Linked DNA regions of Homo sapiens: region 1 is linked to region 2. Evidence: fine-mapped expression QTL. A gene starts in region 2. The other region holds a variant in brackets. All regions are shown on one strand. Distances are between the middles of the regions. Region 1 overlaps RNF144B (ring finger protein 144B). Region 2 holds the start of MIR548A1HG (MIR548A1 host gene).

Evidence for each region.
Region 1: its variant is fine-mapped to the expression of MIR548A1HG in monocytes after R848 (Quach 2016, PIP 0.95). The same link has a PIP of 0.9 or more in monocytes after LPS and monocytes after Pam3CSK4.

The regions. Positions count from the first base shown.
Region 1 is chr6:18,459,437-18,475,541 of GRCh38, reverse strand. RNF144B (ring finger protein 144B) reads right to left here. Exons shown (of 8, transcript NM_182757.4): 6 at 15,791-15,935; 7 at 12,162-12,251; 8 at 6,672-10,615. The coding sequence ends at 10,475. Among named protein-coding and RNA genes, the nearest start is that of MIR548A1HG, 55 kb to the left of the region's middle. The variant A/CA (reference allele first, on the strand shown) is at 8,134.
Region 2 is chr6:18,515,777-18,531,881 of GRCh38, reverse strand. MIR548A1HG (MIR548A1 host gene) reads right to left here and starts at 9,135. Exons shown (of 8, transcript NR_149116.1): 1 at 9,047-9,135. LOC105374955 (a long non-coding RNA gene) reads right to left here. Exons shown (of 4, transcript XR_926549.3): 4 at 14,462-14,497. RefSeq lists an enhancer at 3,655-4,290.

The DNA of each region.
Region 1 (16,105 bases), 56 kb after region 2:
ATAAAATCAGGCCAGTTGTGGTGGTTCACACCTGTAATCCCAGCACTTTGGGAGGCCGAGGTGGGAAGCTGCTTGAGCCCAGGAGTTTGAGGCTACAGTGAGTCCTGATCGTGCCCCTGTACTCCAGCCTGGGCAACAAAGCAAGACCCTGTCTCTACAAACAAAATTACTTAATTAAAATCAAAATAGTATGGAGGTTATAATTTTTAATGAATGTTTAAATGAACAATAAAATTAAAAAATAAAACCAGAGACCTCAAATAAGTGTCTAGCCCTCAGCAGTTAGCTTGGGACAATGCTTCCAGGTCATCTTCTGTTCCCTCCAGTAGTAAATTAACATTCTTACACCAGTTGAGGATATTTATTGTTTGAGAAATACCCTGCAGATTATGAATGGGGAGTGGGAGAAGAATACAACCACTTATTTTTATCATTTTCATTTTAAGGTGCAATCAACACACATTTTTGTTTTCCTTAAGGTAGGTAAAAGAAATTAAACCTGAAGATTTTTTTCAAGTTTTTTTTTTTTTTTTTTTTTTTTTTTTCTGAGACGAAGTCCCGCTCTGACACCCAGGCTGGAGTGCGGTGGTGCGATCTCGGCTCACTGCAAGCTCCGCCTCCCGGGTTCATGCCATTCTCCCACCTCAGCCTCCCAGGTAGCTGGGACTACAGGCGCCCACCACCACGCTCTGCTAACTTTTTTGTATTTTTAGTAGCGATGGGGTTTCACCGTGTTAGCTAGGATGGTCTCGATCTCCTGACCTAGTGATCCGCCCACCTCGGCCTCCCAAAGTGCTGGGATTACAGGCGTGAGCCACCATGCCCCACCACAAGTTCTTATTTTACTTCCTTGGCTATGACACACTTGTGATATCAGATGTAAATATGAGGACTGAGTTTTAGTATGACCACTCTTAAAACTTTTAAAGCATTCTTTGAATATTTAATTAACTTGTTTTTTTAATTAACTTATTTCTTTATTTACCGTTTTTCAAAGTTCACAAGTAGTTTTGTGTTCTACTTTTGAAAATCGAATTCATTAAAGACTGAATAAAAATTTTGTTAACAAAGTCGATGTGCCTATTTATCTTCTCATTCACACAAACATACATGCATATATACTATCCTATATGCTATCAATATATATACCTTAAATTTAACTCAATTTGCAGAAAATACAATGTATACTGAAAAAAATTAATAACAAGCCCCTTAGACTAACACACTCATAATAATCCATGGTGTGCTTCAAATAAGGAGAGTGAGGTCCTGATATTTTTTGTATAGGTACTAGAAGAAACATGTCCCTGGAAATTCCCCAAGCAACTTTGATTATAGGTCTTTTTAGCCACCAAGAGCTGTAGATAAACCATGAGGTTCAACCACTACTCTTTGAATTTGCTCATTTTAAGTAAATTGGCAATATATTTCATATGCTTCTGGCATTATCCATAACAGCATCTGGAAGCTGCTTCTGAGGATTACTTTGTCTAAGAAGGAGAATTTCCCTTGAGCTAACTAGTTTCATGCATATAGAGCTCACAGAGGGGGCTGGAGGTTTTTTCCATCTTAGTCAAAATGTTAGGTTTGTACTGAACCTAGAAAACAGTTACTTCCTAATTTTCTAGATGAGGCAACCGAAGCCAAGAGAAATTGTAACTTGTCCACAAGAGACTAGGAGAGCTATCAAACTTCCCTCCAGTCTTTCATTTCTAGTCAAAAGCATGGCTATGCTAGTTTAAAACATCTACAGCATCTGGCCGGGTCTGTATTGCTGCACTGGGGGTGGGAGAGGGGAAGAGGCAATGACCTTGACTTTTGTTGCACGTCCCTCAACAACAGGCAGTGACTGGTTAACTCAGATCCATCTGCTTTACTGGTCTGACTTGAATGGAAACACCATCCTGTACTTTAAGCCAGCTCTTAAAAGAGTTGTCCTTCCTGAATCCAAAACAAGATTCAATCCAATCCTGAATCTTCTGAAGGTTTGTTTAGAAAGCTCAGATCAGGTTTTCTTCTGAGTCCATTTAAGAAAATCTGTCCCACATATAGACCAAATGGACCTCCCAAGGACACTAGCCAGAAGCAGAATTGCTGATCTCCTTGGCTATACTAGACCCAATTCCAACGGTAAGTCAACAGTTCCCAGGTAGAAGTTAGATTTTGCTAACTCTTCCCCAAGTTTGTGATGTCTTCAAGCAGATTCTATTACCTGTGAAAACTCTTTGCCTTCATGGGGCTGGGAAACAGAACAGATTTTAAAAAGCTAAATTTCCTTTTGAAAATGACAAATATACATACTCTCGTAGCCATTAAAATGTAAAATGGAAGCCAGAGATGTGTCAGAAGAGGAAGCCAAAGAGGTCTGAAGTATGAGAAAGACTCAATGAGCTGTTGCAAGCTTGAAGATGGAGGGGGCCACGTGGAAGGTGTGAGAAGGAACTGAATTCTGACAACACCCAGAGAGCCTGGAATAGGACTCTGAGCCTCCCTCCAGAGGAGAACACAGCCCCATCCAACACTTTGATTTTTTTTTTTTTTTTTTGAGACAGAGTCTCACTTTGTGGCCAGGCTGGAGTGCAGTGGCACAATCTCAGCTCACTGCAACCTCCACCTCCTGGGTTCAAGCGATTCTCCTGCCTCAGCCTCTTGAGTAGTTGGACTGCAGGTGCCCACCACCACGCCCGGCTAATTTTTGTATTTTTAGTAGAGACAGGGTTTCACCATGTTGGCCAGTATGGTCTCAATCTCTTGACCTCGTGATCCGCTAACCTCGGCCTCCCAAAGTGCTGGGATTACAGGCATGAGCCCCCACACCTGGCCAACACCTTGATTTTTAGCCCAGTGAAACTTCGAGCAGAGAACCCAGCAACATCACGTCAGACCTCTGATCTACAGAAACTGAAGTAATAAATGTGTTGTTTTTAGATGCTTTTAAAAATTAAAATAATGCAAACAGGTCCCGAGTTAGTTCATGCAAGATGTGGGTTCAAGTTCTAGCTTTGCCACTCACCTGCTGTACGACCTGCACCATGTCTTCTAACCCCTGAGTCTCATCTCCCATCTGTACATTGGGGGTGGGGGGGTGTGAAGAGTAATATCTACTTTCTAGAGTAGTATGAAGAGCAAAAGGAAACTGCATACTATAAGGCATTATTTAAACACTAAGTTCTTACCATAAACCTTCCCCCCAAAATCAATGTGTTGATATAAATTCTGCATTTCTTTCCACATATTCCCCTCATTTTAATGAAGCATATACTTAGATTTAACTATTTTGTGAAATATTTGTTAAACAATGACATAGGATTTTTTTTTTAAACCTAAAAAGAAAATACATTTACGGAGGGGGTCATACTTCTCTCAACACAGACAAGCTTGAAATGTATTTCAGGACTACCCTCCTCCTGCCCCAAGTTTGCCCCCTCTTCTCCTCTCAGAACAATGCCTGGCTAAAAACTGATTGACTCGGCCAGGCGCAGTGGCTCATGCCTGTAATATTTCAGCATTTTGGGAGGCCGAGGCAGATGAATCACTTGGGGCCAGCAGTTCAAGACCAGCCTGGCCAACATGGTGAAACTCTGTCTCTACTAAAAATACAAAAATTAGCTGGGCGTGGTGGCACACGCCTGTAGTCCCAGCTACTCAGGATGACGATGCAGGAGAATTGCTTGAACCCAGGAGGCGGAGTTTGCAGTGAGCAGAGATAGCACCACTGCACTCCCGCCTGGGCAACAGAGCGAGACTGTCTCAAAACAAACAAACAAAAAACTGATCAACTACACTTAACAGCTGCAAGCACACCTAACTCAGTGGCTCGCTCTCCTCACACCTCCCTAACAACCAACACTTAGAAGCACTTTGACATTCGGGATTTTACTCGATCCACCTAAGCCTGACCTGAGATAGGGATGAAATGACGCTATACAATAAAGGGCTGGCCCCAGACCATACCACCAGTCAAGAGCACAGCCAGGCCTAGAACTGAAGCCATCTTATTGCCAGCTGGGCGTCTGCCTCCAACCCCACACCACCTGGATTGGCAGAGGGCCGGGAGGACAGAGGACGCTGCACACTTGTTCTGTGGCCAGGGTGGCACCACGTTTGCCAGCCCTCTCCCAGCACCCTGTTCACATGCCCTTGTGGTGCCAAAGTCCCAGGGCCAGGCTGGAATTCAGGACACACCACACAGGGTGGTATGTGGATTTCTGAACTTGTTTTAAAATGAATTGGCTTGTCTTCAAAACATAAGTCGAGGCTGATCAATAATCAGAAGTCCCATAACTTACCTCAAAAATACCTTCATGTTCATTTTATCTGAATGTGTTCAGTACTATTGATGTTAACCACCCCTCCACTCCCCACAAAAGGAAATATATCTTCTTGAATCATGTCAGGTCCTTAAGGAACTACAAGATAAAACGACCAACACTCAACTTAATTTCCTTCTCATCGAAAGCCCGAATTCCTGATTTAACAGCTAAAAAAAAGCAAAACTGAGGGCAAATATAGCACTGATAAAAATCGAAAATCATAAAGGCAGAAAATGGAATTGAAAGGACTTCTTTATGTATGAGAAATTAAGTTCATTACTTGGAGTCCCCTTTCTAGCTTTGGAAACTGCCAATTGATTTAATGGTAGGCTACAAATACACATTTGAGTACAAGTTGGCAGTGTTAATAAGAAAGGAGTTAGATCTGAGTCAACAGTCCCTTTGAATCTTGATTGTAAATATCAAAAGGAACTTGTGAGAATGTACTTTGTAGGGGAGAGGCAAGCACTTGGGCATTTGGGGTAAGTATATAGATTCAGCTATAATTCTGCTTCCAATACTAGCAAGTCAGATGCAGACCGCCTTGTTATTTTTCTAGTTACCTTCCATCAACTGTCCTTCTCTAGCCAAACTTCAAGGAGTGAGGTGAGGGGATCTCAGGGGTACCCACCAAAACACAGCCTCTAAGTGATGATTTGAAATATGTTCTTACATACATCTCCACTGATGCAGATAAATGAGAGGGTACTATGTTCTCTTAGGACTCACAGATTTGGGAGTGAAAGACTCGAAATTACTAATGAAAGAGCATTATAGAACTTTCAAGTCGTAGTGCATTCTTTTCCTGGCTGTCACTCATCAGTATGAACCTAAGCAAGACATGAATACAAAACATTGCTTTCTTCATAAAATGGATCTAATCTGCTCCATTTATCTCAAAGGATTGTTCTCAAAAGTTCTTTAGTTTACGTAAAAATATACAAATAAAACATTATAATTGCTATTAACGCATTTAAGCAGATTCGTTTCCTTTTTCTCATAGTGTTGGGCATTATCTTTAGGGTCTAAAGAAAACTAGATTTATTATCTAACAAATGAAAATAATTGAATTACAGAAAAACCTAATTATTATTCTCCTCCAAATCATCAGATTCATAACTTAAATTGCAATGAGTTTGCTGGTTAGGGCACTGATTAAAATCACTGCTATATAAAATGGTTCATTCAATATTTCTTTGGGAATGCAAATTCAAGGTTAGCAAACAATAAGCACACTTTCAAAATGAAATAATGTTGACATTCTAGGAGATGATTAAGAAAATTAAGAAACCATAACCCAAAAGTATTTTTAAATGATCTTATTGATTTCCTCAAAACTGAATGATTAGAAAATGAAATTTGAATTGTACATCAGTTGTAAACCTTTGTATGCAGGTACCATTTTAGAAGCATCCAGCCTTCAATAAAAAGGTTTCAACACCAGTACAGGAGAGTGAGCTTTCGGTTTTATGGAAACACAAGCTCTAGTTGTTAAGTAATCTTTGGCACCCAACTTAAGACCTGCCTCGAATACTAATTCAAATGGAAATGACCTTAACACTCTTAAATCCTTTCTTAAAAAATCATAACAAGGAAACACATGCCTCTAGCAGACTTTTGGAAGGTTAGAACTGACCTTAGCGTTTAGTCCAACCTTTATTGTACAGAACAAATGGCTTTGACACTTGGCAGCATTTTTTATTAGAATGATCAAAGATCTGTATTATTGGTTATTGCTCTGGATAATGATGAGTTCCTATGCACTGGCAGTGTGGACTATCACACCTACAAAGAAGAAAGTGTGTAACAAAGGCATTACACTTGCCACCCCCCCACCCCCTTTTTTTTTTTTTTGAGACCGAGTTTCGCTCTTGCTGCCCAGGCTGGAGTGCAATGGCACAATCTTGGCTCACCGCAACCTCCACCTCCAGGTTCAAGCAATTCTCCTGCCTCAGCGTCCCAAGTAGCTGGGACTACAGGCATGTGCCATCATGTCCAGCTAATTTTTTTTTTTTGTATTTTTAGTAGAGACAGGGTTCTAATTTTTTGTGTTTTTAGTAGAGACGGGGTTTCACCATGTTGGCCAGGCTGGTCTCGAACTCCCGACTTCAGGTGATCCGCCCACCTTGGCCTCCCAAAGTGCTGGGATTATAGGCGTGAGCTACCACACCTGACCCCCTGACCCTATTTCTTTTAAGAAGTAAAGTAGCCAAGAGTTATTTCCATAGATGGTATTGCAAATTCTGGTACATTTTGTAAATTCAGAACCTAGGATTTAACAGTAACTTGGTTGGTTCTCAAAGGATAAAACTGAACATGCCTAGAATTGTGCAGCGCAACAAAGGTTAACACACTTGATTTCCTGCTTACATTTATTGTGGCTAGAGAGCCTAAACAGCTATTTTCTTCTCCAAAAATTGGAAAAATATAACACGATAGCAATTTTTTAAATACATAAAACTTCCTGGATCATGAATCAACATGAGACATAATAGCCTGTAGATATCAATTGTGATCGCTTTATAAAATGTCATTCATCTAATGCATTTCTGAAATTGCCCTTAAAGCTACACATACACACATGACTCTATATCACATAAAGGCATCCATTCATGAACAGAAAGAAAAGTCTTTTATTAGTACTGTGTAGGGAAGGCTAAAGAAATATACATTTAATTCAGAATAATTTTTAAGAAAAAACGTGGGGTTCCAAGAAATGGTGATTTACATTCAAATGAACATGTACATTTGCAAACCTGGATAAGTAGATATTTTCATGAAGCACGCTACAAGAAAATTCACACAGAATTATTTGTTTTTCAAAGGCCTCTTTCAAAGTACAGACTCCAAGTCCAAAGCAAATACCCATGGCATGAACAAATAGGATGCCTAAGATTCTAACATTTGCTTCGGCATGGCTTTCCTCCTCACTTCCCTACCTCACAACAAGAAAAAATTTCCTAGATGGGACAATGGCAAGATATTGTGCTAATACGTTTCATAGGATTTCTAGATGCTGGGCTATAACATCCAGGTTACAATTTGGTGACGGATTTTTTTATTTCTATTGCAAATGGACTACACTCCAAACACAAAAAGATTCTTGCCATAGCATCCAAACATCCCTATGTAGACCCACACTTCCTCTCAATACAGAAAGAGAATCACTCAGAAAGGACAAAGCTGGCAGACCAAGAAAGGAGGCAAGGGTAAACTCTGTCACTGGCCAATTATCTAAAACAAAAATAGCAGCCTCTGTTATCAAAGTTGTCAGTTAAAACTGTCAGCTGTCAGGCACAGTGACACACACCTGTAATCCCAACACTTTGGGAGCCCAAGGTGGGTGGATCGCTTGAGCCCAGGAGTTTGAGACAAGACTGGGCAACACAGAGAAACCCCATCTCTACAAAAAATACAAAACTTAGCCAGGTGTGGTGGTGTGTGCCTGTAGTCCCAGCTGCTCAGGAGGATAAGGTGAGAGGAACACTTGAGCCCAGGAGGTAGGGGTTGAAGTGAACCATGATCATGCCACTGCACTCCGGCCTGGGTGACAAAGGGAGACTCTGTCCAAAAAATAAAAATAAAAATAAGTCGCCAGCTCTCTCCTTTATAAACAGTCTTTAGACTGGTTTGTATCATGCCCCTTGATGTACCAGAGATATGTTTAACCAACCTAGTTTTGTTGATTCTGACAATCTCACACACATTTAAGAATTTACCATTTTTCAGGCACTTTTCAATGTTAAAAAAAATTAAATCCAATTATTGAAAATCAGTTTGACAAACAACCCCCACTCCATAGCCCTGGCAAAAAAAAAAA[A/CA]AAAAAAACAAAAGCAGCTAATTCAGTGATACAAACTCTGTAAGGTGGCAAATTCCCTCAACTCGCCAAGGAAATAGCACATATTTATTTTCTCCCATCTTTACTCCAAATTTGGGACCTCTTCCTCTGATAACACAGTCTTTTAGGTTACTTGAAATCAGCCCCCATTTAAAGACTCTTTGCAGCACCAAGCTTAAAGAGTTTACTGACAGAGGACTTTGCCACTATTAACATTCTTGTTACAAAAATTCAGTTTCAGTTGAGTTCTCGTAATCCCCTGAGCAGTTATAAATGCCTTTTACCTATAATGAGGCAGTGGGCTACGTGTAAAACAAAGCAAATTAACTATTCAAATATATGTAAATCTATAATTATACTAACATGAACTACACTGATAGTGTTTTTTTCTGAAGTGTTTAGAGTTTCAAAAGAAAAAGACACAATATTGAGAAATTTCTAATAAATGATTAAAAATGATTTTGGTTGGTTGCCATTCCCAAGTTTTCCCAGAGTTCTCATCTATGTTCTACACAACATGTAAATTAAAATGTACATAACCAACAGATGTACTATACACACATCAGATATCAATATATACTTGTGAATTAAAGTTCCTGAAATATACACATCCCCACTTAGGATATATCCTATTACATAGGCAAAGCATCATCCTTTAACAATAGGTCCGAGATAGCAGCAATTTGATATTCTATTACCCAGTTACCTCAGAAAATATCATAGATCCTGAATAGTTCCTGATATGGTATCCCTGGCTTCAAGAACTCTCCAGTAACATTTAGCATAGGTCTCATGAAGCACCAGGCTACATTGCCAATAGCAATTATATAATCCTGTCATTGGAGAAAAGGTTTTATCCTTTCAAAACCTCGTTATTCAAATCTGACTAATGGTATAATGGAAAAAATAAGTCACAATGAGGTGATACATAAATTTAAACTAAATTATATAAAGCATTTCTATTTTATTTCTTACATGTTTTTGTTGCGGTTTTATCAGTGCCTTGAAACAGAAAGTATTCAGACTGTCCTAACAGATGCTGAAAGAGCAATAATGATGCTGAGAAAAGAGCTATTCTGTGTTCGAAAACATGTAAATGACTCGGTTATCAATTAGCGTTTTTACAGAGATGGCAGGATATTGTACTAAGCACTGTTTTAAAAGAGTTATGAGTCTATACCCTTGGGTAAGTTATGAACTTACAACCAAAATTCACATATATAATATGCAAAAAATCTTTAGGCAGATTTACAATAAACCATTTCAGTCACAAAAGGATAGAATGGCTCTTAAGTAAACATTTATTTTGTGTGTACTATTGGGTATATCCATGCATGCTCAATGGATAGAAATTACAGGTAGGCTGCAAGTCACATGGATTCTAGATGTACATAATACGCACTTTAATATTTACCCTCCATGTGTACTCTTAGGCCTGATTCCAAATCTATTGGCTGTGTGAACACAGATCCTGAGAAAGGTCCCAGATATCTATGACGAAAGTTTTGAAACTCTACCACTCTACCCGTATTTTATATGAAACAATTCTGTAGACCACAGCCACTGGCTGTAAGAGACAAGTTGGCCAACTTAGAAAACTTACATTTGCCAAGGGAGAGACACTAAATTAGACCACATTGTTTAACAGGCTGCAACTCTTTTACTGGGAAGGGGCAACTCCCTCTGCACAGCAGTTTCACCTGCTTGAAGCTGAGATCACACAAGGAGAAGCCTATTGTGTTTCTGCCAAATCACAGCGGGAACATGGGGACAGCACACCCAGTAGCCAGCAGAGGCACAACCACCATATCAACTGCTGAGATCAGCAGCCTGCTTTATAGCTCCTATGAGGATTTCTCCTTACGCAGTCTTATCCTTCTCCTCATCAGGTTTCCCCTGTGTTTCTCATGGCAGTCAAATCAACACAGAACAGACTCCAGCTTCTTGGTTATCTTGTATGTTGCCAACAATGACAACACATTTGTTATATCAAATGTTCCCGCAAGCTCCTTGAATTTGGCTGGAAGTTGAACAGTCCAGTGAGATCCTTTGGATGATAAAATGATATGTTCATTCATCTCAAGGAACCCCAAAGCTCCATAGAAACAGCTGGACCGTTGAGCCCAGTTCTTGTTACACAGGAACACTCACACCCAGGACTTGGCCTTTCCTGATGCTGAAGGCTGGCAGGCAAGTTCAAAGTCTGGACACGGAGGCACTTTCAAAGTTGGCAAGGAGAAGGAGGCAAGGTCACTAAATGGGGCTTTATCACTGTGCCATCTCATGTAACTCACATATCTGGGGCGTATGAACACAGAGATCTTTAGGTTGTGGATGGGTCGTGCTTTTTCTTCTTGCCCCGACAGGACTTGCAGACACAACAGATTATACATGGGGAGGCCAGGAGTAACAAGGGTGAAGTAACCAAGGCAATGATGCCCAAGCCTACGAGAATCCCCACCACCTGGAAATTTCAAAGAAAAGCATATTTCAGCAATTAAGTCTTTCAATATGTATACTTATTCCAACTATACTGTTATCTGCTGTGGGCCAAATGTTTGTGTCCCCCTGAAGCTCATATGTTGAAACCCTAAATCCCCGATGTGACGGTATTTGGAGACGAGGCCTTTAGAAGTTAGTTGGTTTATGAGGGCAGGGCCCTCATGATGGGATTGGTGCTCTTACAAGAACAGATGCCAGAGAGCTTGCTTTCTTTCTCTAGGCTCTATGCCATGTGAAGACACAGCAAAAAAATGGCCATCTTCAAACCAGGAAGAGAGCCCTTGCTAAGATATGACCATGCTGTCACCTGAACCTCAGACTTCTCAGCCTCCAGAACTATGAGAAGTAAATTTCTGTTCTTTAAGCCTCCCAGTCTATGGTCATTTGTTATAGCAGCCTGAACAAGACATCATCTCAGGCACACAGAACAGTTACATTTCTGGGACCTTTCAGCTAGTGCCCAGCAATGATCTGAATTGGAGAGAAGCCAGAGAGATACAAAGGACCAAATCAAGGATGGAAACCATCCAAATGCTAACTCAAGCTGTCGCAAGCTCAGTATAGTCATGAATTATTGGTATTGGTGCTCTCTCTCTACTTGAATTTCCTCAACTAGCTCAAAGGGATGTTAATGATTACTAGGATATTAGCACTGACTCCCTCCAAAGGAATACCGCCTTTAATAAATATAAAACACTATTAAAAATTAAAAATAAACCATGACTCCTTTTGAACCTGCCACATAAACACACAATGGCATGTACACAGGGATCTAAGCCCTAGAAGGGGCTCACAGGGTTTTAGAGCACTGCCTGATATGGTTTGGCTGTGTCCCCACCCAAATCTCATCTTGAATTGTAATAATCCCCACGTGTCAAGGACAGGGCCAGGTGGAGATAATTGAATCATGGGGGTGGTTTCCCCCATACCGTTCTTGTGGTAGTAAATAAGTTTCATGAGATCTGATGGTTTTATAAATGGGAGTTCCCCTGCACAAGCTCTCTTGCCTGCCACCATTTAAGACATGACTTTGCTCCTCCTTTGCCTTCTGCCATGATTGTGAGGCCTCCCCAGCCATGTGGAATTGTCAGTCCATTAAACCCCTTTCCTTAATAACTAACCTAGTCTCAGGTATGTCTTCATTAGCAGTGTGAGAACAGACTAATACACTGCCTTTGATAGGTAATATGCCTTAAAGGGCTTTAGGAAAGTCATTCCACTGTTTCTCAAGAGGAAAGAACATCTGCCTGCATTCTGCACGTCACTGTTGACTGCCTGGCAGCTCTGGTGCCCCTGTTTCTCCGCTTGTCCTTAAGGAGACTGTGCTCATGAATTAACTTTAGGTATTTACCCCATTACTTTTCCCTAGCCCTGCCCTAACACTCCCCAGAAGCTCCCAGGCTGGGATGGTACCTCCCAGGAGGGAATAATGAGGAAAGGCGAAGAGGTGGGCTCTTTAAGCCATCACGATTTTGGTTTATGTCACGCTCCCTATAAGGTCAGGGTACCTGTGTTCGGTTCCACATCACTGATGCTCTTGAGTGGCCAAGTTTATTCCTGCATGGCCCTTTGTCATAATGTCTGAGGAAAATGTCATTCTGAAAAATAAAAAGATTGATTTCAGTAAATATGCAGTTTTAAATTGAGAAATGAATACAGACCACATCAGATCACCAAATGGAAGGCAAAGTTTTTCTCTGGTGATATCAGTGACCCCCTCTAGGAATTCCAAGCCTGTAATCTTTATCTTGGTAGTTTTGTAAATCACCAAAGTGAAAGCAGATCATAATCAATACGAATCTCAATTAATTATTTTTAAAAAGAAAAAAAAAGAGTAGTAATGACCTGACTACTTATCTTAGCAAGGTAGCTCTGGCGGAGGTACAATGGAATGGGAAGACCAGGAGCAAGGCAGCTGAAAGGCTGGTGTGGCAAACCAGGAGAGAGAAAATGCCAGTGACTGAGGATGGATGGAGAAGAGGAAGTTACAGTCCTCAGATATTAAGAAAGTAACTGGAGAGAAACAAGGAGAAGCAATCACAGAGAAGGGAAAGTGATTGGGTTAAAAGAAGGCAGTCGCTTTATTGAGAGAAGTGACAACATAGAGATGGAGTTTGTTGGGAAGATAAGTTTGGACACGTTGAACTTGAGAGATGGTTGAGACATCCAAGCAGGGCTGTTCAAAAGGCAGTTCATCACAAAGATCTACACTGAAAAAAAAAAAAACTTGGACCTCAGCAGAGAAACTAGCTCAGGGTCCAAATTAAGTGTAGATAATCTATCTAATGGTCTGTTCATTAGACAAATGGAGAAAGGGGACTCAACTGGGCATCGGTGTACATGGGGTAGAAGAAACCATAGAAGAGACTGAGATTAACTAGGAAGAGGGGTAAACTGAGAAGCAAAGAGGCTGCTGAACACAGGCATTTAAGACTGGATCGAGGAAGAGGCTAAAAAGGGAACTGGGATATGACCAGAAAGGTAGAAGAGAAACCAACAGAGGTGGTATCACTGAAATGGAAGTGGTCAAGATGTTAAATGCAGCAGAGAATCTAGGTATGCTAAAAACAAGTACTATTGGATTCTGCCAATAAGAAATCACTCAAAATCTGGGAAAGAGGTACAGTCGGGGTGTGACTACGTGGCAATCCGAACACATTGCAGTATTTGGAAGGTAAGTAATGTCAGTAGCAAGAGGTGATTAGGCTTTTTTGAAGCTTGGCTTCTAAAGGAAAGATAAATAGAGGGGTAGTAAGGAAAAGAAGTAGGCTTTAAGAAAAATGTTTACTCGTGTTTAAATGTGACACAGCCGAATGCATGGATATGTTGAGAGAGTGGAGAGTGGAAATTGAAACCACAGGAGAGGAAAGAGATAACTGAACAGCTCAAGTCTCTAAGGCTATGGACAGGAATAGGATTCTAAAGCAGACAATTAAGCGTAACTCATCCTCTGAAACTACAGGGGTGAGAATCAAGGCAGGAACAAGCTCAACTCCAACAACACTCAAAATTCCTGTTTGGTGTCCGTCTCAGGCCTGGATTTTAGACAATCACCCCTCTCCTGGCCCCATGATCTCAAACTTTCCTATAAACAGAGATCCACACCACCATCTGATGTAGAACTCCACTTGCGTAGAGAAAAACATCATTACCAACAATCCAATGCCCCTGGCTAAAACTGAAAATGAGATCTTAGAAAACAGTCACCAGAAAAAAAGATGCTTCAATATTTGAAGTCTGTGTATTCAGCCATTTAACATCTGCACCATTTCATCTCCAGAACCAGAGCAGCACAAGAGACAGAACAGCATGTCCTTTGCAACACCATCCCCCAAACACATTTCAACCAAAGGATGGAGATCTGGTGCACATATTTGTTCCCTTACACTCTGGCCTCCTAAAGAGAACCTCATGGGCTCAGCCTCCTTGTGGATATGAACCCAATTAATATTCTGGTGAAACCTGAAGGAAAACAAAAAAAAATTGTTTTTCATTTGTAATGCATGTGTAATGTACAATCAGTAAAATCCTCATCCAGAATATCACTCACTTAGATGCATGCTAGGTCTTAAATATCAAACATAATTGTAACTCAAGGGCCTATGATAAATCAATTTTTAAATAGAAGATATTTCTTCCAAACTGAGCTGCTGAACTTCTAGAGTCTAAAATGTCCATTTTCTTCTCCTCAGTTTATACCTCTTCTTAAATCACTAAGATGGAGGTTATTATTCTTATTCATACATGTCATCTTAAACAACATATCTAGTTTTCCATTAAACATCAAGCAGGTGGTGGCCTGCTTGATGACATTACATGCTAACTGCACACTCACTCACTAAGCATGTCTGAACTAAAGCACTACACAAATCGCTTGTTGAATTAAAGCAAATCAAGCAATCAAAACAAAGAGCTGAGAAAAGAATAGCAACTCAATGGTAACTGAGGGCTTACGCTGATATGGACATATTTTAGAGGTCCAAATTGCCAAAACAGAGTGTTATCTATAAACAACTTATGTTACCCCAAACTTTAAAAGACCAGAAGTGAAGTAAGACCTTCTCACCAACTCTTTGCATCGCATTTTTAACTCTGAAGTTACCATTAGCCTTGGCACAGGGCTGAATAAAACTGCACCTCAATTTGAGACTTGATTCATGAATGGTGAGAAAAAATTAAGCCAAGCCCCTTGATCTGGGAAGGGAACACTGTCAAAACAGTAGCGATACTGCTGCATGCTCATGAACAAGAGAGAGAGAGAGCGAGTGAGAGCATGCAAGAGAGCATGAGGGAGAGAAGAGAGTTAGGAGACACCATTGATTTGAACCATTTTTCTTTAAATTCAAAACGAAGAAAAAATCTAATAGTGGTAGGCAGAATAACTACCTCCCAAAGATATCATGGCCTAATTCCCAGAATCTGTGAATGTGTTACCCTATATGACAAGAGGGATTCTGCAAGTGTGATTAAATTAAGAACCTTGAGATAAAGGAGATTATCCTACATTATCCTGATGGGCCCAATCTCATCACATTGGTCCTTCAGGCAGAGAACCTTTCCCAGCTGTGGTCAGAGGGAGCAACGACTAAGAAAGAAGGGAGTGAGAGATCTGATGTTGCTGGCTTTGAAGATGGAGGAAGAGGCCACAAGCCAAGGAAAGCGGACAGCCTCCAAGGCAAGAAAACAGATTCTCCCCTAAAGCCTCCAGAAAGAAATGCAGCCCGGCTGACACCTTGATTTTAATCCAGCAAGACCTATGTCAGACTTCCAAAGTGAAGAACTGTGGGATAATAAGTTTGTGGTATTTTAAGCCACTAAGTATGTGCTAATTCGTTACAACAGCAATATAAAATGAAGACACTAATAGTCCTTTACATAATAGAGACAATGTGCAAATAGCAAGAAATGCCCTGAAAACAAAAGCTTGCCTTTAACACCAGGGTGGCATATGTAAGGTCATCAAAAAGATGTTTTTAGATATCTAAAGTATCAGGCTTAGTAAGTCTCATTAAGAAAAATAAATTCCTTTTGCAGGACAAAAATTGCCCCAATATTTTAAAGGAAAATCTGTAGGATATCAGCTGTGGTGCAGATACAGTATAGGAAACACCATACAACAAACCTAGGTGGAACTTACATCCAAGTTCTGGAGGCAGTACCAGCAAAATGTATGCTTGCAGTTTTTGCACATCATCTGAGCGCAGCCTTCATTGCGTTCGATATAAACCCGGCAAACTGGGCACTGCTTAATGGGGGCTTCTGCATCTGTCCCAAAGAGGGCTCTAGAAACAAAATGGATGAGAAATGGCATTCAGCTGATGGTCATCAGTTGAATTCCCAGGGCTCCTGATGGTTAGATAATGAACTCACAGTTATCCATGCTTAATTCACTTCCAAAAGAAAGGGTGTGGGCAAAAACATTATTAGATGTACAGATAACTCATACAAGAAG
Region 2 (16,105 bases):
CTCCAAGTTTTAAGCCTCAGAGGTAGGCAGCTTAAAGATGCCTTTAACAAAGAGATGAATTTTAAACAACAGAAAAAGACAGGTGGAAAAAAGGCACCAATCCATGTGGTTAGTTTTTACTATCCAGTGGGAAATAAAAAGATTTACAGAAGCTTCCAAAAATGTATACTATACAGTAAGGTAAAATAACAAGATAAAAAATTTTTAAAAGAAAGAAAACAATGAAGCCAGAGAAAAACAGGGATAGAAAAGTAAGTGGAAGCCACAAGTGGGCCAGAGAGGCCATGATTTTGGCTCAAAGAGTCTTTGTATTAATAGTCACAACTCTGGAAGAGCCACAGGGTCCGTGAGAACTGAGCAAGTCAGTGACTTAGGAAAAGCTCATTTCTTCTCTGTACTGAAAACAGGGAGAAAATTCCACCTTGGACCATCAAAGAGGTGATTTATAATGTAGCAAATGATATTCTCAATACTGACCTTTGAGATAAAGAACTTGGTTTGAGGATGTCACATGGAACTGTATATGCCTTTAGAAAAATCCAATGAATATTTCATGCAAAAAGTTGAGAATGTGAACCTGAAGCTCAGAAAGTCAGGAATAAAACTACAAATGAATTTGGAATTTTCCCACATGAAAGAGATGCCCAGTGTGCAGATAAGAACACAGTAAGAAAAACAGAATTGAAAAGGTCCCATTGCTATGATGGTTTAATGCCTATGATACACAGCCTAAATAAAGATATAATATTGCCACCAAAACTATATATTAATAGGTTTCAAACATGAATTAGCATTTAACTAAAAACATGAGAATGCTTCCCTCTTGGAAAAAAAGAAAGCTAAATTCATCAAATTTTAAATTTATAAAACAGATGGATGATTAGCATTCAAAATGATTCAACATTGGATGTCAACGTTGATTTTTTTTTTGACCGGCAATTGCCCTTAGGAAAGTCAGTTTATGAAATTTCACTTCTCACTAGTTTTTCAGCACACATCCATTGTATTAGATGTGGAAAACATAGTTTAAAAACTGTCATCCCAAAAATTGTTTGAAAAGTTTCTATGATAGATAGGTTAACAAACTCTGTTGGATAGATGAGCTATTCTGCTATGTCATGAAAAGGTAGAACTTTCTGATAAGGCTATTTCAAAAAAAGTAAATATATCCCAAAGATTGATGTATGAGTGAGGATTGCTTTGGCTGCAATCATCAGAAACTGATTCTAACTTTTAAAATTATATATATGCATATATATATTTAAAAATTATTGGCTCACAGATCAAAGGAAATATTGAAAAGTCAGGCATTGGTGTTACCAGGATGAATCAGTCACTGCTAATTCTCCATTCCATACCACTAGAATCAGGATTTCTAGTCCTGAGGCAAAGAGCATTGCTTCGTATGCCCAACTCTTGGCTAGACAAGGACAGGGCCCCTTTGATCAACAGCTCCTCTTGGGCTGCACATAGCCTTTTTTAAAAGGATGTCAAAGTCATGCTATGACAAAAGATAATAGGCAGGAAGGAAACAGCAATGAATGTCTACAACACACAGCAAGCATGCATTTCTGATAGGAAAGCAAAAACAACCATGGATGTTGACATATAAAATGAATCCAATCATCATCCCAGAAATGCAAGTATTTTCATGTTCATATGCCTTGAATATCTTAAGAACCCAGAAATTTATTCTAGGTTACTATCAATTCAGAAAGACTCTTCATCAGATAGGGAGGATTTTTTTTCTATCGATAGGAACATAACAGGACCACTCTGTCTTGTTCTTATATTTCATAAAAATAAAACTAAAAGGAACAAGAGGTATGTTTGACCTTATATTTGAAATAAGCCAACATTATATTAAAATATTAATGCAACCTTAGACAATGTTAATAGAAAATTAAGTCCAAATGACAGGAAATACAGTCTCAGTGACTTCTCTCCTACTCAAACAGAGCACTGTTTTGAATTCTGAGTTTTATAATTTAGAAAGAATGGGCTCATGCCTTTAATCTCAGCACTTTGGGAGGCTGAGGTAGGTGGATCGCTTGAGCTCAAGAGTTCGAAACCAGCCTGGGCAACACAGCAAAACCCCATCTCTACAAAAAATACAAAAATTAGCTGGCCGTGGTGGCATGCCTGTAGTCCCAGCTACTTGGGAGGCTGAGGCAGGAGAATCACTTGAACTCTGGAGGCAGAGATTGCAGTGAGCCAAGATTGTGGCACTGCACTCCAGCCTGGTAACAGAGCGAGACTCTGTCTCAAACAACAACAACAAAAAATTAGTCAGGCATGGTGGAGTGCACCTGTGGTCCCAGCTACTCGAGAGGCTCAGGTGGGAGAATCACCTTAGTCTGGGAGGTCAAGGCTGCAGTAAGCCAAGATCACACCACTGCGCTCCATCTTGGGTGACAGAGTGAGACCCTGTCTCAAAAAAAAAGAAAGAAAGAAAGGATGCAGCAAATTAAGAGCACACTCAGAGGACATGACAGGACAGCAAAGAAACCATTGGAATAACAATGAGGGGAAACAGGAACATTTAACATATAGAAAAGAGGATTTGGGACTTAAATGACAACGGTCTTGAGTGCACTGTGCTGTACGGCAAAGAAAAATTGAATGTGTTCTCCAAAGATCTAGAATCCGGTTCCTACTCTATTCCTATTTACTGTGTGATCTCAAGCAGGTTGCTTCCCTTCTCTGGGTCTTATGTCTTCACCTTTATAAAAGGAGGTGTTGTTTTGTGAGCAATGGCAGGGGGTTTTCATCAGACTTAGGTTCAAATCCCACCTACATGGCTTACCAGTTACGTGGTTTTGATCTGAGCCTTTGTAAAATACAGATAAATAAAGATGAAAATTCCCTCAGAGCTTATTGTGAGAATTAAATAAAATAATGTAAATAAGATGCCTGGTGCAATGCTGATACATAGTTGATACTCAATAAATTATAATTTACAATTACTAATTACCAATAAATGGTAAATACAGTTATTCAGTAATACGACTCTATAAAAGATGTGAAATGCCATTACAAGAAGGCGATACAGTTTTCTGCCATGTTGCAAGACCAGCGATAAAAGTTATAGGAAAGCAGGTTTTTCACTAATTGAAGAAATAACTTTCTAATAAGTAGAACTAACAAGAAAAAAAAGCTGCCTTGCGAAGTAGCAAAGTTCCCAACACTAGGAATGTTCAACAGGGTCATGAAGAATATCTGTTGGGGACACTACAGAACAGCTTCCTATATTTTGAATGAGAAATAGATAAGATCCCTTCCTAATTCAAATGTCTATGACTTTCAGCTGAATGCAGTACCAAGTGCATTCATAGTTTATAATATTAATGTACCACTGCCCTCTAGTGTATAACCTAAGAAGATAAAATCACTGATTAAAAAAAAGGAAAAAAATGTTTGCACAAGCATCATGCAAAATTATTTTTATTGACAAAAAGTTATCTCACCAATCATTGAGTAGAACCTTCTTATTTTCAGGTGAGAAAACTAGAGGACAGAAAGTGATACAATTAGCCCAAAGTCACAGGGCTACACAGCACAGAGCTGGGATAAGAATCTCACTCTCTAACTCTCAGGTCAGGGTTCTTCCTGACATGTCACATTCCTGAGGCTGCAGCATAGATCCAGTTATCCTTGGATAGCATCACTTGTCTGAGCCAAAACTCTTTGGTTCTAACCACGTAACTGGACAAGTTTCTCTCAGCACGATGAGTCCAGCACATCCTCAATCACAAGTTCAAACCCTTACAACCATGTTGCTGAAAAAAAAACAATGGTTAATGAGGCCATGTTGACAAGCATAGTTCATTATCAGCAAGCTAATGACCACTCAGGCCGCAGCAGGGATGCCAGCCTACAATTAGGTCTGCAGTGATGTACAAACAGAAAGGGACTCTAGTTATAATTAAACCTGATCCTTTAGTCCAATTGCTCATTAGGAAAGAAAATAAAACAATCCACAGATCCCACACAAGAAGGCCTAAAACTAATGCTTTGGTCCGGGGATGAAATGTTAGGCCATTGAGCTATTAGCCCATGTCTGTCTGCTGCTGAATGAGCACTTAAGCTTATATTCTTATTCAAAATACTTTGTAATGAAGGAGGATTGGTTTTCATCTTACTGATTTTGAAAGCCGTGGCACAAAGGATGCTGGATAATTTTTCATTTTCTTCATTTTGCCTATCACGATTGTTCAATCGTTTTTCCTGTGGACCTGTATTACTTGTGCAATTAAATATATTTAAAAAGTACTAAATCTTGCCAAAATCTCTTCAAGTAATGAAAACTAGGCATTAAACATAAGAATACACATAAGCACGAGCCTTTCATAATTAGAAGAAGGAACTACCTCTATAGAAAGGCAACATGATGTTATAAAAATAAAAAAGTCAGCACAGTATATGGGTTCTGAAACCAGAGGACTGGAATTCATGCGACAGCTTTGCTAGTGAACCCTTGGACGGGTATCTAAAATTTTAAAGGAAGGTGTCTGTGATTAAATGAAAGGTCTAGGTAAAGATCCTAGGAGATGTGAAAAAAAAAAAGTGATTCATAAATTACAGGTTCCTTCCTCTTCCCCATATTCCCCTGCATTGCTTTTCTGTCCTCATAATTCCTAAAATATGTCTAAATCTAGAAAGAGATGTCTTACTAAGAAAGACCAATTGAAAGCTTTGAATTGATGAGGAAAGAAGATGTAAGTAGGCCTAAGGAGGGAAAGTAGTAAGAAGAGAGGGAGAAGAGGAGGCAGTATTAACAAGAAAGAAGAGAGAATGGGCTTCATTTGGAGACAAATTCTCTGGAGCCTTGAGAAGAGGTGGGGAGGACATTGGAAGAGTGAAGCTAATGAGATTAGAAAAGGTTTGTTTTCTCCCTTTCTTCCCATTTAGTCCCTTCCTTACCTTTTTGTCTCTTTCAGATTCTTAAATGATGAAGCCCTTTCTTATTCCTGTCCATTTATCCTTCATCTGCAACTTCTTTCTCGTTACTCAGTGCCCTAGCCGTGTGCTTTTGAATCAATCTCGCCAGCACCCTCTGGAAGTGTGTGTCATCAATTATCTTTTCATTACATAACGTTTCTCACACATACCTTCAATCTGCTCTTCTCTACTGGTCTCTTATCTGTCTATCTAAAAGCATTCTTAGGTTTTCTCTGTACTTAAGATTCAATCCCAGGAGCCCTTATATTGCCATGTGCTCCCTGGGTAACAGAAAGGGAAAGCACTGTGAAGAATACATCATTCTTTAAAAAACCAGTTCCTGCGCTCAAGGGGCTTACCAATTAGTTGTGGAGAAAAGACTATGTCATTAGAAACAATGGTGATCAATAAAAGGAGTATATAATTAAGTCCTAAATTGGCTCGTCAGACTCTGAGTCTCTACAGCTTGGGGGATGCACGCCAAGGAGTTCCCCAAGGTGCTATGGTAAGGGATGATTTGGAGGAAGCACCAGGCCAGAATATTGCACAAAGCAATTACTCAATAAATATTTGTGATTTGGTTTGAGACAAAATGTTAGCTAAGCCTTGAAAATCATTATAAGATCGCCACTTCTCCCACCTACTTGACAATTCTCCTTCTTCATTGGTTTTAAGGTGCATATTGTTTCACATCTTAACAATTCTGGAACAAGGATGTATTTTTCAATCAAGGAGACTCAGCATGTGTTACAGACTAATTGCCAGTGCTTTTTCTTTCTTAGTGGTATATAAAATAATGGTACAACTTACAACCGATGGCTTCTTAGATTCCATAAAACACAGTTTTTTTGTGTATCCAGTATATTTCAGGTTGCTATTTTAGGCCCTAGGGATATGTGAATAAGAAATGTAAAGTTTTTCTTTTGTGAAGCTTGCATTGTGATAGAGGAAGACAGATAATAAACAAATTAACAAATATATGATACACTGATGCCAGGTATGGTGACACAGACTGAATAGGAACTAGATTTAGGCCTAGATCCCAATCTACTGTGCAGGAAAATAAAAAATAATGAGAAGTGAAGTTTTTAAAAATCAGATTTCACGTACGAGAAATAGCAATTTGGAAGGAATTTACACATATTTTGGGTATTTCATCTCCTCTGCTAGACAGTGAGCTCCTTGAAAACTTTTTATAAAGGGCAATTTACTTAATTTTACTACAAAAGCTGAAAAATATAGTATGGATTGGACCCTTGATCTCAAGGGTCAGGAAACTTTTTCTGTATAGAGCCAGAGAGTCAATAATTTCAGCTTTGCACATCATATGCTCAATGACACAACTACTCACCTCTGCCATTGTAACACAAAAGCAACATGGATAAATACATAGATAAGCATGGCTGTTTTCCAACAAAATTTGGTTTATAAACACAAGTCGCAGGCTGAATTGGCTCCACATTGCAGTTTCCCAACCCCTGAACTAGGTAGCTATTCCTAAAGGCTCCTAGAACTCTGGAATTCTTTGAGATCTAAGCCTGGAGACCTATTTACCACAGCATATACAAATGATCCTCGACTACAATGGTTTGGCTTACAATTATTTTTCATTTTTAATGGTGCAAAAGCAATACACATTCAATAAATACCATACTTTGAGTACTCATACAGCCATTCTGTTTTTCACTTTCAGTATGTTATTTAATAAATTACACGAGATGTTCAACACTTTATTGTAAAATGGGCTTTGTGTTAGATGATTTGGCCCAGCTGCAGGCTAACATAAGTGTTCTGAGTATGTTGAAAGTCAGCTAGGCTAAGCTATGACATTTGATAAACCTATAGGTGTATTAAATGCATTTTTCCTTATAATAGTTTCAATTTGCAATGGGTTTATTGAGATGTAACCCCTCGAAGGCAAGGAGCATCTGTACAACATCCACAAGATTCCCCAGATTGTTAGTAAGGCCACAGAAACAAACCAAGAAAAGGGGAGCAGCAATGTTTCTGGGGTATCATATGTGGAGATGAACCCATTTACAAAGGTTTGCTCAAAAACCAAAAATTTCAACTCATCCCAACATACATGGCCTTCCAGATAGATTCAGGGAATCCTGCACTAAAAAGAACAGGTCTTTTTACAGCCACAGATAGGAGGTCAGCAGGTGATTAGTGAGGTCTGCATGCTCAGACCTGGCTTGTTGCACTGCGGTCAATTACACAGCTGGTTACAAGTGTGTGTTTGCACCTGTTCAAGCCTTCAAATGTGCTAATCCTATATTAATTAAGCAACTTCTTAGAAGCAGGTTAAAAACAAATTAGACCCTGCCATCCCATGCCTGTTCCAGCCTTCCCTTGGTAGCCCTTCATCTATAAGGGATCATCTACAGAGGGTAAGGAGCAATGTTTCTTCGTAATTCGGGAGGGGCTCATTATGCCCCATCAATTAGTGCTGCCACCACTTAGTGAAAACAGTTGTTGGTACATAGCCCATATTAGTGACTAATTAATAAGGGTTGATTAGCTAAGCCCCCTCACAAGGTATAACAGGCAACAGCCACCTTCCACAAGGACTACGGATTAAAACAGAGATATCAACAATGTAAAATGAAAGAAATTTTGCTGGTGACCCTCATCTTTTTTTTTTTTGCTTGGAGACGGAGTCTCACTCTTTTTCACCCAGGCCGGAGTGCAGTGGCGCTGTCTGCAAACTCCGCCTGCCGGTTCACGCCATTCTCCTGCCTCAGCCTCCCGAGTAGCTTGGACTATAGGCGCCCGGCTAATTTTTTGTATTTTTAGTAGAAATGGGGTTTCACCGTGTTAGCCAGGATGGTCTCGATCTCCTGACCTCGTGATCCGCCTGCCTCGGCCTCCCAAAGTGCTGGGATTACAGGCTTGAGCCACCGCGCCCGGCTACCCTCATCTTTCTGAATGGGTTAAGAGACAGCACAGTCCATAGCTAACCAGTACACCTTATGATTTCAATACATTGAAATGATTTCAGTTGCCAAGGATGTCTGGCTTGTTATTCTTTGAATCATTGATAAAGGGAGGAAAGTAGTACCATAGCAGATTAATGTGGGAGCTTATCTCAGGGAGGTAGAAAAATCGACCCTGTACATGTAGGATGCACACCATACTGCAAAACATAGGACATGAATGTGTATCTATTTAGATATCCCTGTTGATATTTTCAAATGTTATTTTTATTAGGAGCATGGAATAGTGGGTAAAAACAAGAGACTCAGATTAGTGATTTGACTAATTATGGATCAAGCAAAATGTTCATGTTTCTGTATATCAGTTATTGTGTTATATCATAATTACCTGTTGTGTATCTCCCTCATTCACACACACACACACGCACACATAGACACAAATTTTGATCACGGGTTCTTTGAAGTTAGGGGTCAAATCTCATTTATCTTCATATTCCATAGAAGAGAGCATTTTAGAAACTTCTTAGCCATTTGATGAATAGATTAAGGAATGAATGCTTTAACTTCTGATTACTGGCTAATATTTGTATCTTTAGTAGAGATGGGGTTTCATCATATTGGTCAGGCTGGTCTTGAACTCCTGAACTTGTGATCCACCCACCTCAGCCTCCCAAAGGGCTGGGATTACAGATTACAGGCGTGAGCCACCACACTCGGCAGCTGATTCCATCTTTTTTTTTTTTTTTTTTTTTTTTAGACGGAGTTTCACTCTTGTTGCTCAGGCTGGAATGCAATGGCACAATCTAGGCTCACTGCAACCTCTGCCTCCCAGGTGCAAGCAATTCTCCTGCCTCAGCCTCCTGAGTAGCTGGGATTACAGGCATCCGCCCGCACGCCCGGCTAATTTCGTATTTTTAGTAGAGACGGGCTTTCTCCATGTTGGTCAGGCTGGTCTTGAACTCCCGACCTCAGGTGATTCGCCCGCTTCGGCCTCCCAAAGTGCTGGGATTACAGGCTGAGCCACTGCGCCCCGCCTGATTCCATCTTTTACTCATGGCATCATTCCTTGCTACTCTTAACAGGTGTATTACTCCATTTTCATGCTGCTGATAAAGACATACCCAACTCTGGATAATTTATACAGGAAAAAGGTTTAATGGACTTACAGTTCGACGTGGCTGGGAGGCCTCAGAATCATGGCAGAAGGCGAAGAGGAGCAAGTCACATTCTACGTGGATGGCGGCAGGCAAAGAAACGGTTTGTGTAGGGAAACTCCCGTGTTTAAAACCGTCAGATCTCGTGAGACTTATCCACTAGCACGAGAACAGCACGGGAAAGACCCACCCCCCGTGTTTTAATTACCTCCCACCAGGTTCCTCCCACGACACGTGGGAATTGTTGGAATTAAAATTCAAAATGAGATTTGGGTGGGGACACAGCCAAACCATATCAACAGGTTTCCTTGGGATAAGTCTGATGCGTTTAGCATATCAAAGCTATCACTGTTCTCCAGTTTACCAAAATACCTCTTTCCAAACACGATGGAGAAAGAAGAAAAATGAGTGAAAAAGAGAAAAAAACCTCTAACCTACTCCCTAAGAATGTTCATCGTGGCACCATTTAAAATAGAGACTGCAAATAAACCTAAGGATGGTTAAATATAGTATGATACATTCTACATGTCATATGAAATCATTAAATTAATGTTTTAAAAGACTAAGAGTATTTAATGACATAGAAAGTGTTCCACTGAGATATCGTTAGAAATAAAAGGCACAATCCCTGCAGGATAATATAAAATAATATGTATCATGTGCATCTCTAAAAGGCCAGAGGTATAAGATTCAAAATATTTTAAAAGGCTCTCTCTGGTGACAGAATTGGGTGATGTTTATCTTCTCCTTTGTGTTTTTCTGGAAGATCCAAAGTTTTACAACATGTGCTACATTATAGTCAAAGGAAAAAAGTCCATATGAAAAAAAGAAAAGGTTTTGCTTTTATATATCTTTATACGACATCATAAAAACCATGCAATCTCATCAGTCAGGCTGAACTCCAGCAGCTACTAAAACCAGTTTAATTAATGATTCTCACATAAATTAAGTGAACTTACATTACCAGATAATAAAACATATTATGACACTACAATAACGTAGTACACACATAAAAATTGATGGTAGAAACAAATAGCCCAGAAATGGATCCTAATATATATCTACTCAAAAAGAACTTAGTATATGATAAAGGTGAGATGACTAATCATTCAAGAGGAGGAAGGATTATTTCATAAATAGTGTTAAAATAGAGAGTTAACTGTTTCAGTGAGAAGATAAATCACTGCCTTACAAGATACAATAATGTACATTTTGGATGGATTTAATTATTAAGTGTAAAAACTACACTCAGGAGACCCAGAAGAAATAATAAATATGTGAATTTATAATCTAGAATTTCAAATATCTTTCTAATCAATGATAAAGGAAAAAATAAACCAGAAAGAGAGGGAGACCAATTTTCCTACACTTTTGTATATCACTTACTCACATCAAAAACCACCATAAAAGGCCTGGCGCAGTGGCTCACGTCTGTAATCCCAGCAACTTGGGAGGCCAAGGCAGGCGAATCACCTGAGGTCAGCAGTGATTCCTGCTGAAACCCCGTCTCTACTAAAAATACAAAAATTAGCCGGATGTGGTGGCACACGCCTGAAACCCCAGCTACTCCAGAGGCTGAGGCACGAGAATCACTTGAACCCAGGCAGCAGAGGTTGCAGTGAGCCGAGATTGTGCCACTGCACTCCAGTCTGGGCAACAGACTGAGACTCTGTCCTCAAAAGAAAAAAAAAACTTTATGTTCCATTAGGGCAGGGGCTGTCTCTCTCTCATTTGCTGCTGAATGTTACACCTTCTGCAGTGCTTCACACATAGTGGGCAATCAATAAGTATTGATCAAATAAAAGAATGATCATTTACAAAAGAGTAAATAGAAATGACCATTAACACAGTTATGTTTTAAAAGTCCCACATGACTGGTAATCAAAGAAATGAAAGATGAAGCAGAGATAACACTTTATTCCCTCAACTTGGCATGTATGTCTTTTAAAATAATACTCACTGCTGTCAGGTATATGATGAAATGAGTACTCTCACTCACTGCTACTAGGAATCTGTTAGGTCAAAATTTGTCAAAATGTGCAAAAATCTCAAAAGTGTTTTGATCCTTCAGCAATATTTTCATTTCTGAGAATTTATTATGGAAAAATAATCTAAATAAACACAAAAATATCAATCTCCGCAATCCTGGTAATGCTGTAAATTGGAAACAACCTAATTGTTAAATACAGGGAATTGATTAAATAATTATATACATATGAAATAATGTTATAAAATATTAATATTTGTGATTTTGAATATTTAAGTATATGGAAAATTGTATGTTATAAAACAAGTTTAAGGATAAATCTATACGTATATATTGATTCCCATATTTTAGAAAATATATGGATATCTATACGTTAAAAAAAATAATATGTAGTCCAGGCGCAATGGCTCCTGCCTGTAATCCCAGCACTTTAGGAAGCTGAGGCAGTTGGATCACCTGAAGTCAGGAGTTCGTGACCAGCCTGGCCAACATGGTGAAACCCTGTCTCTGTTAAAACTACAAAAATTAGCCAGATGTGGTGGCACATGCCTGTAATCCCAGCTACTCCGGAGGCTGAGGCACGAGAATCGCTTAAACCCAGGAAGCAGAGTTTGCTAGTGAGCTGAGATCTCGTCACTGTACTCCAGCCTGAGCAACAGAGTGAGACTCTATCTCAAAAAAAAAATAAAAATAAAAATAAAGTGCATATTTTTATGTTTACTTGGATAGCGAAATATGCTTTTAAATTGATTTCCCAAAGAACTCATACTACTTGTATAATAAAACAAAAATAATAATTTTAAAAAACTTATCTTCACCATGCACAATGGCACAGCAGCTACACAGAGGCCACAGCAGGACGATCACTTAAGCCCAGGAATTTGAGACCAGCCTAAGCAACATGGAAAGACCCTGTGTCTTTAAAATTTTTAATAGTTTTTAAAGACTTCTCTTCTGTGAGGTTTGCAAGCTTTTTCATAGTTTGCAAGCTGTCATTTTAATATATTCTATTGATCACAAAAGGATTGGGGTGGGGAGAGATAGGTACTATAAACTGAAACCCCGCTGCTCTTAGGCAAACCCAACAATCCCAGCATATGTTGGGGTCAGTAGTGATACTCTCCTAGCCGGGACCTCCTGGGCTCACTCCATCCTACGCAACCAATACCCACCCTTGGTAACTCAATCACTGGCATCTAAAAAATGCTTTTTGCTTAGCTTAGAATATTTTGCCATTTAGATGAACATTTTTCATCAATTTTTCACTGAGTTTTTTTCTCCAGAAATGTGAACTGAAAAGTGAATTCATAGAAGAAAAATTGTTGAAAAAAAATTTCCTTTAGGATGTTTTTAGAGAATTTTTTAATCCTGAGAAATTTCACCTGCAGGAAAAGAAAAAAAATACTTAATTGCTTATTCAGTCCTATTTTCCTAAGTGTTCAGATCTTTTAATAACTTTAATGTATAGGACAGTTGCATAGGTAACATTTTAATATGACTCTGTGCATATGTGTACTACTTCTCAAAGAGGTTGAACAATTTTACATACCAGTAGTGTATGATATTTCTGGTTGCTCCACATCCTTAAAAACACTTGATGTGGTCAGTCTTTTTAATTTTAGCCATTCTAGTGGGTATGTAGTAATGTCTCATTGTGATTTTACTTTGCATTACCCTAATGTTTGGTGTGGTTGAACATTTTTTTCATGTGCTTATTTGCCATTTGTATATCTTCTTCGGTGAAGCCCCTCAAGTTATTTTTTCAGGACTGTGCTTTGTTAGAACGTTTGAAGCCTATGAACTTAAGAGAAATTCATATATCTGGTATTCCAATAAAATATTTGGAGATACCCTTCAAAAACGAGGTGTTCAGATCCTACTTCAAGCTTTATTTTTCATAGCTTTCCTGCCTATAATTATCATGTCATCATTATCCTATCTGTATATAGTCAAATAATATTGTCCTGAGAATTAATGTAAAGCAGATTCCTTCCTTCTGGCTACTGGATTTCCCTCTCAGATACTAGTTGGATGCCTGCCCAAGAGGAAAATATCAGGCATTGCAGACAGGTAATCCTGAGCACACAATCTCATTCTATAACTGAAATCTAAAATGCTATACACCAAGGAACATTTCATAAATCTTTCCTCTAGTTGAGAATTATAACCTCTCTTTATGACAGAGAACATGTGTATCCAGTGCTGGAGATTTTATTCTATGCAATAGGAAATAAATAAATAAAATTGAAAAGCATCCAGATTTGAAAAGAAGAAATAAAACTGGCTTTATTTGCAGATAACACGACTGACTCTGTAGAAAATTCTTTGGAAAAACAACTTTGAAAAAAGAGCCAGAGGGTTCGTACTGCCTAACTTCAAAGCTTTTACAAAGTTTCATTAACCAAGACAGTGTGGTATTCGCATAAAAATAGATCAATAAATGAATTAGAATAGAACATAGACCCACATATTTAGGATTGTTGACAAAGGTGCCAGGACAATTTAAAAGAGAAAGAATAATCTTTTCAATAAATGGTTCTGGAACAACTTGGTATCTATATGCACAAAAATGAACCTTGATTCTTACCGCTTAGTATATACAAAATTTAACTCAAAATAAAACATAAGCCTAAATACAAGAGTTAAAATTATAAAACTTCTAGAGCACAATAGGAAAAAAAATCATAGTGACCTTAGTTTGGCAAAGATTTGGATACAGGAATAAAAAGAAACCATAAATTAGACTTTATCCAAAGACACTATTTTAAAAAGGAAATGAGAAACCCTAGACTGGGAGAAAATCTTTACAAATAATGTATCTGTTAAAGGACTGATATCTGGAATACATTTTTTAAAAACTCTAACACCACCACCACAATTTTATTAAAAATGGGCAGAATATTTTAATTAACACTTCAAAAAAGATATACAAATAGCAAATAAGCACATGAAAAAAATGTTCAACTACACCACTACATAACCACTAGAATGGCTAAAATTGAAAAGACTGATTATATCAAGTGTTTTCAAGGATGTGGAGCAACCAGAAATTTCATACACTACTAGTGAAAATGTAAAATTGTTCAACCTCTTTGAGAAACAATTTCTTAAAATGTAAATATGCAGTCACCATATGACCTAACCATTCTACTCCTAGCTATTTATCCACGAGAAATGAAAGTATATGTCCACACAATATATACATGACTGTTCATAGCAGCTTTACTTGTAGTAGCCAAAAACTAGAAACAAGCCAAATGTACATCAATAGATAAATGGATAAAAAATTGTAGCATATTCTTACTCAGCAATAAAAAGGAATGAGCTCAGCCTGGCCAACATGGTGAAACCCCGTCTCTTCCAAAAACACAAAAATTAGCCAGGCGTGGTGGTGCGTGCCTGTAGTCCCACCTACTCAGGTGGCTGAGGCAGGAGAATTGCTTGAACCCGGGAGGTGGAGGCAACAGAACAAGGCCCTGTTTCAAATAAAAAAAAAGGTAATGAGCTATAAATATACAAAACAACATAGAGGAATCTCTAAAAAATTATTCTGAGAGAAAGAGGTTAGAAAAAATAAGATTCCATTCACATAAAATTCTCAAAAATGCAAACTAATCTATAGTGACAGAAATCAGTGGTTGCCTGAAGAAGCGAGAAGCAGGTGATAATTAACCCAATTTGGGTAAAGGTTTCGCAGATACATATAAATGTATTTCAAACTCATCAAATTGTTCACTTTAAATATGTGGATTTGAAACATCGTATGTTCTCACTCGGAAGCTAAGCTATGAGGATGCAAAAGCATTAGAATGATACAATGGACTTTGGGGACTCTGTGATGGGGAAGCTGGAAAGGGAGTGAGGGATAAAAGACTACAAATAGGGTACAGTGTATACTGCTTGGATGACGGGTGCACCAAAATCTCACAAATCACCACTAAAGAACTTATTCATGTAACCAAACACCACCTGCTCCCCCAAAACCTATGAAAAGAAAAAATAAATTAAAAAATAAAAAAGTCAAAATAAAAATAAACAAATATGTGGATTTTAATATTTGTCAATTATACCTCAAAGAAGCTGCAAAAAACTGATGATTAAAAGAAACTTACGGAGAAAAATGAGTAAGAAAGTGCACCTGCTCTTGAATGAGACTACGGGTAATGATTTGATTTTTTAAAACATGGTAAATGCAATAATAGCAATACACCTACAATAAAAAATCTTTTGGGCCCTAAGCAACCTTTTTGATGAATTGAGGCCTGAACTGGGCTATAGAAATTTCGTATCTATCATTAACTTAATATATTATTACGTTTTGTCACTGCCACTTGCTTCCAAATTTTCTATAATGATCATATAATTTTTTCATAATAAAAACATTATTTTAAAAATAAATGTTCAGTGAAAAAGACTAATTTAAAAGACCTTGTAAATACTATAAAAAATATAAGTATCATGCTAACAATAGTTGAATATTAAGAGGAAAATTGTGCCTGAATATTAAAATGGCTATATAGAAAGAAAGAAACCATGCTAGTCTAGAGAAAAGGGAATGAAGGAGAGCTTAGAGATTAATTTTCGTTAATAATGTTCTCAATTCAGCTTTGATTTCATCTGCCACAAATCTTTGCCTCCTCCTAATATGGCTTAATTAGCAGGAAATGGAGGGTATCCTTTCACACCAGAGAAATTCAAAGCTTCCCCTTGTAGTTTATCCCCAAAATTTCTGGGTGCAGCAGAAGTCAGTCAAGCTGCTACAGCTTTTGTTATCGATGCATTATTTTGATGGGCACTGAGGGGTGGCAAAGACAGCCTGACCTTGATGGCAGCAACAAGCAGGCTCTAACAACAAGTTGCAGTGCACTGCCACCCCACAGCTCTGGAATGCATGACAAATCTTTGTTAATCTCTTGAAACAATATCACCCTTCAGAAGCACTGCTTTTTGCTTTTTTTCTTTATTTTATTTTCACTACCCAAGTGTTGCCTAAAGACATAGCACAAGCTACAAACTTAATGACTTTGAATTAATTCATTTTTGATTGATTGAACTTTGAGAATCAATTCATCTTTGATTGGTTG